Regions from separate parts of the Homo sapiens genome. Here region 2 is linked to region 1. The links come from fine-mapping of genetic effects on gene expression. A gene starts in region 1. The other region holds a variant in brackets. All regions are shown on one strand. Distances are from middle to middle.

Region 1 (5,000 bases):
GAGCGATGGAAAGGGAGTGTAGACTACGGGGAGAAAAAGTAAAAAAGGACAGTTTTTGCAGGCTGGAAACAATAAGTATGTCATAGTGCAGCAACGTATCCCCCTTAGGGGAGGGGAAAAGTCTGAAATACTTTTTTAATATGCTATTCAAATAAGGGAGTAACATGACCAGTTCAACAGACTTTTTCTCCATTAATTTGGAATCACCCAATCTTGGATTCTGACTGCTTGGATGGTTGTGCCTAACTGTTCTGAGGCCTAACCTTCTGGCCTAATGGTTAAGAATGTGGGTTCTGACATTCATCTGCTAAGGTCTGAATCTTGACATTGCCATTCCCTAGCTGTGGTATTGGGACAACCCTGTAATATCTGTGCCTAGGTTTCCTTTTCTGTAAATAGGGATATTCATAATTGTTGTTAGGATGAAATAAATGAAATAATGTATATAAAGTGCTTAGTGCCTTACACATACTAGAACCCTAATAAGTGCTAGCTGTTATCAGCATTATTAACCTGTCTCTTAACCCTACTCTCAAAGAACAGAGTGTTGAAGGGTGGGCTTCCCTGTTATATCAGCCTTAAATTAAAAAGTAGCCCTAATATCCTAGTCTCCTATGATCACTATTTCAGAGTTGGTCATCAGTGAATTAAACTCTTGAATAAAATTACATTTTGGTCTCATTAATGCAGCCCAAGACAGCTAGGATGAATATAATTAGAGCCACAATTAGACAGTGAGGCAGGCCAACAGTTTCCAAATATTTAAGAGTACACGAACCTAAAATGCACAGCCTGTTACAGAAGCAAGCAGATAACCAAGCAACTTAAGCAGCCTTACAGAGCAGTCAGTCAACGTCTCTACAAAGCCTTTTTAGATGTCTGCCCACAGAAAGAATCCAAATTTAATTCCTAAGCTTTGCCAGATTTCAACCAAAAGCTGAAAAATGTGTAGACCTCATGTTGGAAGTCAAGACATGAATCGAAATCTTGGCTTCTCCCTTTACTGGAGAAAAGAAGAAAGACAAGTTACTGTGCTCCTATTACATACATTCTAGACGACTCTTTTTATACATTATCTCACCTAATCTCTATGACAATACCAATAAGTAGGTCTTATTTCCATATTATGACAAATGAAGATGGATAAGTAAATTTCCTAAGGTCAATCAACTAGTTAGTGACAGCTGTGAGATTTGATCTTAGGTCTGACTATTGCTCAGTTGAGAGTTCACTTATGTCAGTATGATCATAAATTACATAACGTATTTGCTTGTTTTTTAATTTGTAACAAAAGGATGGATATACTGTACTGGGTTGTCATGAAAATTAAATGACGTGGAAATCTCTAGCTAGGTGCTTCCGCAGTTCACCATTGTGGAATCTGAATACTGAGAGACAAGGCTAGCCTTGTAAAAAAAACTGTGAGGCAGTAGAAGTATGTCCTCTTGTTGACCACAGCTTTCCTTTCTATCTAACCATTAGCTTTCGTGCTCTTTTTACTCTCAAACATAACCCGTAATAATTATCTTTTCCTGATAGCAGGAAATCTCTCAGGAGATGCTCTCAGGAAAAGATAAATATTATGGGTAAAGATCCCTCGACTTGTCACCACTCCCAGGGAAAAATGGATATTGTTGAAGGGCAAAAGGTCTTAAGCTCTATTTTTATAATTTCTGGCTTATGGGAACTGGTGGAGTAACATTTTAGAGACCAGGTAGTAGAGCCTCCGTGTGCCTCCGAAATAATTACCAGCAATCAAAAAACTATTATAGGCCCAGGCCTCACGCCTGTAATCCCAGCACTTTGGAAGGCGAAGGCGGGAGGATCGCTTGAAGGCAGAAGCTCGAGATCAGCCTGAGCAACACAGCGAGGACCCATTTCTATTAAAAAAAAAAGAAAAGAAAATAGCTCATAGCTATTTTTGAGACCTTGGGCTGCTGACTCGATTTCTGAAAACAGCTGCAATCCCCAGTTTGGGATTAGTTGAAGACCCAAACAAGGTGCATGTCGACACTGGGCTCAAGGTAGGGTGTGTGGCATATATGACAATACGGATGTTCAGAAGTGACAACTTAAATCACCGCTTGTTGTTCTCCCCTTACATCACCCGGGGGCAAATGGATTAAAGCGACAGAAAGGGGAGTGAAAGCCCCAGCGGAGGGCTTAGGCTCTACTTGCAGATCCAAGACGCATATTCTGTCCCCCTCCCAGTCGGTGAAAGCTCTTCACCCCTTTCACCTCCCTCTCCCTCTGGGTCTCTTAAACTCCGCCACCCTTTCCCTCCCCTGCGTCTCGCCAGGGACCTCCTCACTCCTTAGTCCAGGGCTTCGCCGCCAGGATTTCTTGCTGCTGTTTCTTGTCGTATTTGTAGATTTCATCGATACTCTGAGCTTCCTGCATGTTGTTGGCCAGTTCCCAGGTTTTCTGGGCCATACCGCTCCCGGACGCCGCCATCGCCGAGGAAGCGGAGAAGTTGTCGTCTCTACAACCAAGACGCAACTTTACCTCGCTAGGTTTCCGGGTGTGGGCCTTGACCCTCCGCACCACGGGAACAAACTCTTACCTAGACTCTTGGGGCAGCCATGACACCTAGAACCGGAGGTGAAGTTGGTAGAGACCATTCAGGGAAGACAGGGACCTTTCCGGGACATGACGATATAAACAGCAGTTACAGTAATAGCGAGAGACGAATCTTCTTGTTGCTTAAATGAGAACATCTTGTCTCGGAAAATTATATGTGTGAAATAGAACAAACAAAGTTATAGGGTATGGGAGTGGTATAGTCTTCCGCACCGGAAGAAGGGCATGTAACGTTATTCCAGAAACTGGTATTTGCCTTCTCTGCTTCTAATGCGCAGGCTCGGCCTCCGCCATATTAAAGGTAGCTGGAGCCTTAAGAGCGGGATGTGGAGGGCGGAAAGTGTTTTTGTGTGGGTATAGGTACCTTAAATGAGATAAGTTTGTTGAAAGACTAAAAGGTAAGGCTGTCTGTTGTACAACTGAGCTAAAAGTCGTTCTGGAAGCTGGTTGAGAGGAAGATAAACATGGCATTCCCGTTTACTTCAAGATGACTCACTGTACATGCGTAAAAGCTAACGGGCTCGTGGTGGCTTGGCACTTCACTTGCAGATGGGCTTTTTCTATCGATGCGAGGAGGCAGTGGGTACTCCTTGATTGCTTTTTTGCGCTTTGGTAAAAGTTAACATCTACGTATATATAATGTGCCATTACTGATCTGAAAATGTCCAGTACTCAGTTCTCGTAACAGGTTACAGTTAAATCTTTGGCACTCCTGTGAACCGCATTTGTTCCCAAAGCGTAATTAATCTGGGTAACTGGTTTGTTTTCTTCCTACAGTTAATACAATGTTTAATTTTTTTATTAGTTCACGTGTTTTAGGTTTTCTTTTTTCTCCATCTCATTCTTCCATCCGTGCAAGATTTTAAGTTTCAAGACACAGGGAGCAGGTCTGCGTTCCTTGTTTTATCTCCTAGCACCTAGCATAGGTGTTCAAGATTTTTTTTTCTTTTATTTCCTGAAAAGATAGCATGACAGGCCAGGCGCGGTGGCTCACGCCTGTAATCCCAGCACTTTGGGCAGCCGAGGCGGGCTGATCACTTGAGGTCGGGAGTTCAAGACCAGCCTGGCCAACATGGTGAAACCCCGTCTCTACTAAAAAAATACAAAAAAAAATTAGCCGGGCGTGATGATGTGCGCCTGTAGTCCCGGCTACTCATGAGGCTGAGGCAGGAGAATCGTTTGAACCCAGGAGGCGGAAGTTGCAGTGATCCGAGATTGCGCCACTCCAGCCTGTTAGACAGAGCCAGTCTCAAAAAAAAAAAAAAAAAAAAAAAGAAAGAAAGAAAGAAAAAAGAAGAAAAAAGAAAAGATAGCACCACAGCTGTTAACAACCTGGCCCCTATGCACCTCTTCCAGCTTCATCTCTTTTTAGTCCCCCCTTGAAACTTTTCATTCTAGCAATGCAGATATCTTTACTTTGGCTTTGCATATGTGGTCAGCATTGCTTGAAACGCTCTTTCGTAAATTTTCTGCCTGGGAACTCCTATTAATCTTTAAAAATGCAGTCCAGTGAGATCGACCACGAACTCTTTCTTGACGCTCCAATTACCATTCCTTCCATTATGTCTGTAAGTCTCCGTAGGTGCTTCTATAACTGTTACAATGCGTTGTAATAATCAGTTAAGACAAAAACATTAGAATTATTGAATCCACACCACAGCTTGCTGTTTTGGCACTGACTTTCCGTTGAAGAAAATTTCCTTTAAAACCATCTTACAAAGAAATTTAGGGTAAAATAGTACATTAATACCTACCCTTAGTTCCACTCTCCTGGGAAACTAGAGGTCTCTTTTCTAGTGGTAGCATATGGCCATATGCGATTGTATTGGGGTGAACTGAATAATATGTTGAAAATGGTAATGAAAGCCCAGGACCCAACGTTGACCACACTCCTGGGCTAGGAGTAATGCCCTGAGAGGTATGCCAACACTTTTCCTCTCACTACCACCCCTCCCCATTTTTCTTTCCAGGCTCTTACACTGTTCCTAAGCTGGCTGGTGCATGGGAGGCTGGAGAGGCTGCAATAGATTTAGCCTGAGAAGTGGCCCCCACAGTTTAATAGCCCCTGGGCACAGCAGGAGAACGAGTTGACCAAGTCCCCGGCCAGCGTACTGGCGAACCGAGAGCAGCGGGCAGCTATGCGGCCTCCAGGACAGCAGGGGGCGATGTCTTGCCGCGCGGCCGCCTGCAGTGGGGGCGGGGCCGTACCCGGCGGTTGGCGAAGGGCGAGCGGAGGGCTGGGCCTGAGGGGCGGAGCCCCGGCCCGGAGGTCTGTCATGCTGTTCCCGCTCCAGGTGGCCGCTGTAACCTCTTCGGTCCGCGACGATCCTCTAGAGCACTGTGTGTCTCCCCGGACGCGAGCCCGCTCCCCTGAGTAAGAGTCAGCCAGCCGCGGATGGGGAGCGTGAGTGGCGAGGTGT
Region 2 (5,533 bases), 150 kb after region 1:
AGCATAGATGTCACAGTTCTCAAGGGCAATTCAGAATGATACTTTTCTGTGAAATCTAAGTTTTAACCGTTGACAATTTGTTAAGAAAGTTAAAAGTTGTGGGGAACAAATCTGGTCAGTTGGCGTTAGTTTGCTACTTTACAGCCTCCTGGCTTTAAAATTCAAAGGTATTATTGGGAGAACAGTACAAATTTGAAAAGACCTGTAGATTAAATAAGAGTATTGTTTCAAGGATAATTTTTTGATTGTTAGGGATAAGTGGGCATTGTGTTTACAAATTACTTCCAAAGAATTCAGAAAATTGTGTGTCTGGGAGGCAGGGTAGCAAGATAAAAAGAGGGAGGACAGCTGGGGTTGGTAAAAACAAATGTAAAATGACAACATTTGGAGAAACCTGGTGTAATGATTACTTTTGTGTCAATTTGGCTAGGACACAATACCAATATCCTATGTACTTAAGCCAGATACTTAAGTCGAAGGAGTAACAATTAATTCAATTAAACACTATTCCAGGTGTTCAGCTGAAGGTATTTTATACATGTGGTTAACATCTATAGTCAGCTCACTTTTTAAGGAAATTATCTTCAATAATCTAGATGGTCCTTATCCAATCAGTTGAAAGCCTTCAAAACTGAGCAAAACAGGTTTTCCTGGGGAAGAAATCCCGCCTGTGAACTGCAGCTTCAGCAGCAGCCCAAGGCTTTCCAGCCTGCCTGCCTGCCCTACAAAATTTCAAACCTGCCAGCCTCCACAATCACGTAAGCCAGTTCCTTAAATCTATCTATACAAATCTCTCCTGCTGGTTTTGTTTTGCTGGCCCTGATAAAGATTTTGATACCATGAAATGGAATGTGGCTGTAACAAACACCTAAAAATGTAGAAGTGGCTTTGGAACTGGGCAATGGTAGAAGCTGGAAGAGTTCTGAGACACATGATAGGGAAACACCTACATTGCCCTGAAGAGACTGTTGGTAGAAATATGGATGTCAAATGTAGTTCTGGTGAGGATCCACAAGGAAGTGCAATGTGTGAGAGAAAGCATCTACCATCTTAGAGAAGACATGTATGGCCATGAAACAGATTATTGGTACAAATATGAATGTTAAAAGGTGCTTCTGGTGAGGTCTTAGAAGGAAATCAAGAACATGATATTAGATACTGATAGGTGATCCTTGTTGTAAAGTGGCAGAAAGCTTGGCTGAATTGTTGGGTGGAAAGCAGAATTCTAAGTGATGATATGTAGTTGAGATTTCCAAGCAAAGTGCTGAAGGTGTGGCCTGGTTTATCCTTGCTGTTTATAGTACAATGCAAGAAGAAGATATATTGATGAAAGAACTGTTAAGCAAAAAGAAACTGCCAGTTGATGATGTGAGAGGATCTTGTGCCTATCGAGATTGAAAACGATGCTACAATTAGGAAATGAATTGTTAGGAAAGCATGCTTTGGAGAGAAGGCCAAGGCTATAATAGCTGGACAACTTTTTGCCAAAGAGATTAGGTATATATCTAGTGGAGCCAATCGATCATCTCAGCAGAAGCCAGGAACATAACAGGACTATCCAGAAAGATGTGTGGATCACACTCTTGTTTAATGGCATGGTTTCTCTTAACACATACAGAAGACCCACAAGGATTTTGAGAATGATATACCAGCAGACATATGGCCAGCCTAGAATGAAAGGGACAGAAACAATAAGAGGAAGGGAGGCTGAATTCTAGGATTCTACAGGCAGAAAATGGGTCAACAGAGCTACAAACGTGCTAACCTTTAAGAAAAAGAAGAACAACTGAGAGTGTAGGGCTCAGGCCCGAAGAAGCCAGCCATAGCCCCAGAGGGCAGAATATCAAGCCACACAGCATTATTCTCAGGCCTTAAAACTCAACGGAATTGTCCCTGCTAAGTTTCAACCTTGCTTAGGACTGGTGATCCTTTGTTCCTTCCAATTTCTCCTTTTTGCAATGAGATCGTATATCTTATGCTTGTCCCACTACTGTATTTTAAAAGTTACAAACCTGTTTTCTAGGTTCACAGGTCCACAGATGGAGACGAATTCTGCCCCAGAATAGAGCATACTCAAGAGTGTCATCCATCCTTAATGCAGATGCGGATGATCAGATTAGGGACTTTTGATTATATTTATAAGGGATTTTGGACATAGTGTTGATGCTGTAATGAGTTTAGACTTTTGGGGACCTTAGAATGGGGTGACCATCTTTTGCCGATGGGATGGACATGAATTTTTAGGTGTCAGTGGGTAGACCATAGTGGCATGAATATTGTCCCCTAAAAAGTATGTTCAAGTCCTGACCCCTGATACCTGCAAATGTTACCTTACTTGGAAATAAGGTCTTTTCAGATGTAATTAACGATCTTGAGATGAGATCATCCTGGATTTCAGGTAAACCCTAAATCCAATGACTAATGTCTTCATAAAACAAAAAGGAGAGGGAGAGATTTAATTCACACACAGTGAGGGAGACTATGGATAGATGGTGGCAGAGATTGGAGTGATATGTGAACAAGCCAAATAATGCCAAAGGTTGTCAACAGCCGCCAGAAGCTGGACGAAGCTAGTAAGGATTCTCCCTTAGAGCCTTTGGAGGGAATGTGGCCCTGCTAACTCCTTGATTTAGGACCCATGGTCTTTAGAACCATGAGATAGTAGGTTTCTATAGTTTTAAGCCACCAAGTTTGTGGTAATTTTTTATGGTAGAACTAGGAAACCAATACACTGGGTGAAGTGAATGTTAGAATTCTTTGTACTGTTTTGTGTTACTTTTCTATAAGGTGAAATTATATAAAAATAAAAAGTTTAAATACTATCCAACAATATCTTCAGCTTTGCATGGAGACAGCTACGTAATCTGGTACCTTTCTCTCACAACCCTTAAAAAATCATTTTGTTCTATGTCCTATATTTAAAAATAATTTAAAATACTCCCTTCATGGCACTTAACAAAGACACATATTAATTGTCTGTGACATTGACCAAAGAATTAACTTCACAATTCTGGACAGTAAATTTATACCATCTTCTTAAAAGAGTCAAACGCATTGCAATGATATGAATGTTTGCATTCCCTCCTAAATTCATAATAAAACTTAATCCCCAATGCAACAGTATCAAGAGGTAGAGATTTTAGGAGGTGAGTAGGCCATGAGAATTAGTGCCTTAAAAAAGGACTGGAGGGAACTAGCTAGGCCCCTTTCTGTCCCTCCTCCTTCCACCACGTGAGAATGCAGCAACGTGGTGCCATCTTGGAAGCAGAGAGCAGCTCTCACCAGACACTTGATCATACAATTCCCAGCCTTCGTAATTG[T/TA]AAAAAAAAAATGTCTATTTATAAGTAATCCAGTCTCAGATATTTTTTTAATAGCAGGAATGGATTAAGACAATTACATGTAAGAATTTGACCCATAATAAAATTACTCATCACAAATAACTAATTTCAATATACTTTACTGATTAAAACTTACCAATGGCTTTTCACTTACAGGAGATGGAGGTGGGGGGGCAGTTTCTCCAGAATTGGGTCGCCAGGTCAACAGCCTTTAAGATACCAAAACCACGTCAATCACTAGGGGGCTGTGCCACATGCCACATCCAGCATATTTTGAAATGGGCCCAAGAAAGTAACAAGAACATACCAACTAAACAGTCCATCTTTGACCACTGCTAATTTTAGCAATTTCCTAAAAAACATCTAGTAAAAAGTTTAAAATATGTACTTTTAGAAAAAAATTAAGTGGCATTTAATATAATTAAAAGGGTAATATGGTCACCAGTTTTGCATTAAAAGAACACTTTCTGATAAGTTTTAAAGATTTCAGACCTCCTTTCCCTAAGTATTAATATCAAATATTTTCCAAAGTAAGAGGCTTCTCAAAAAAAAAAAAAAATCATAAAATTGGCCAGGCGCGGTGGCTCACGCCTGTAATCCCAGCACTTTGGGAGGCCAAGGTGGGCGGATCACCCGAGGTTGGGAGTTTGAGACCAGCCTGACCAACGTGGAGAAACCCCATCTCAACTAAAAATACAAAATTAGCCAGGCATGGTGGTGCATGCCTGTAATCCTAGCTACTTGGGAGGCTAAGGCAGGATAATCACTTGAACCCAAGAGGCGGAGGTTGTGGTGAGCCGAGATTGCGCCAATGCACTCCAGCCTGGTAAACATGAACGAAACTCCATCTCAAAAAAAAAAAAAAAAACCTACCTCACTATAATTCCATTTCACACTCATCCCTTAGAGAAAGATGACAAGCTGTTACGAAATACGAAATATAGTATGTGTAAATACATTTTCCTTAGATTATTAAAAGATCAGTAACAGAAACAGGCTGAGATTTTTTTTTTTCCAATTCAAAACCACTGCTTGGTTTGATCTGAATAAATAAAATCTTATAAAAGTCAGCAGAATCACTTCATTATGTCCCAAATTTTGGTAACCAGACTAAAGGTTTTGGTTTATAAATAGTTTAATTTATGTATTTGTTATAGTTTATAGCAGTTTGGTTTGTAATAAATCTAAATCCATGTAAGAGTAAGACAAGCTTAAAAGGATTTCTGTTATGAGAAATCAGTAGTCACTATCAAACTTTTAATCACTAGTCACTCTCCAACTCATTCAATATACAAATATAAATGTAAAGTTGTATAAAATCTTCTTACGCATGTGGGATTGTGGTTTTGAAGATATCCAGTGTGCAGTTGCAAGTTTTATCCCAGATTTCTAGGGTAAATTTTTCACCATTCAGAATAACAACATTCTCTAAACAGTTTGTACCAGATCGCGCTAACTGCTCATTGTCTAGGAAAGAAAAGAGCAATTCATTTATATATTACCAGGGTCACATTTAACACTTTGTGTCACATATCTGGTACAGACCTACCTTGCTGCACACACCAGTAGAGCTGAGCAAAAATGTCATCCAAAAGTACATCACTGAGTACTTCTAAATACTGAGTGAATACATCACAGATTGCATAAAGTGCATGATTGCAAGTTGTTGTCATCCATTCAGCTTTCTGGGGAAAAAAGTCATTAATGAACATCACGCCATTAATCAACTACTATGATTAAAAAAAAAAAAAAAAATATATATATATATATATATATATATAAATGTTTTCATATTAAAAATGGAAGGCTGTCAGTGTTCCTTTTAGACCCCTGAATTCCCTCTAGAACGTTATATTCACCTCAACTTAAAATCTGATATCTATTGCTCCTTATTATCCCATAACCACCTATGTATACAATAATTTAACCATTTTTGGCACTGCTTGTTTTGATTATTAAAAAAAACCATCACCGTATCATCTTGATACTAACATTATGATTTTTCGAAGTGCATGAATAGCAACGCCGGCCTTGCTCTAGAATATGACAGAACATGAAAGGGAAATAAAGAGGTAAGAATTTGTCCAAATGGGATTAGCATAGGTTTAAAATAAAAATGACTTTCCTGAAGTATGGTTATCTGAAAACACCATAAAAAAAGGGCTATACAACGTAAGTGTAATTTATTTTTTTCA

What was found. PIP is the estimated chance that this variant, and not a neighbour inherited with it, causes the effect. A credible set is the group of variants that fine-mapping cannot tell apart.
Region 2: its variant is the best candidate, but not a certain one, in a credible set for the expression of COPS5 in T cells (TOPMed, PIP 0.54).

The regions. Positions count from the first base shown.
Region 1 is chr8:67,059,543-67,064,542 of GRCh38, forward strand. It overlaps COPS5 (COP9 signalosome subunit 5), which reads right to left and starts at 2,591. Exons shown (of 8, transcript NM_006837.3): 1 at 2,312-2,591. The coding sequence starts at 2,454. It overlaps CSPP1 (centrosome and spindle pole associated protein 1), which reads left to right and starts at 4,850. Exons shown (of 31, transcript NM_001382391.1): 1 at 4,850-4,996. RefSeq lists enhancers at 2,258-2,347, 2,528-2,797 and silencers at 4,728-4,867, 4,806-4,993.
Region 2 is chr8:67,213,116-67,218,648 of GRCh38, forward strand. ARFGEF1 (ARF guanine nucleotide exchange factor 1) reads right to left here. Exons shown (of 39, transcript NM_006421.5): 31 at 4,888-5,023; 32 at 4,667-4,805; 33 at 3,475-3,547. Among named protein-coding and RNA genes, the nearest start is that of ARFGEF1, 130 kb to the right of the region's middle. The variant T/TA (reference allele first, on the strand shown) is at 3,321.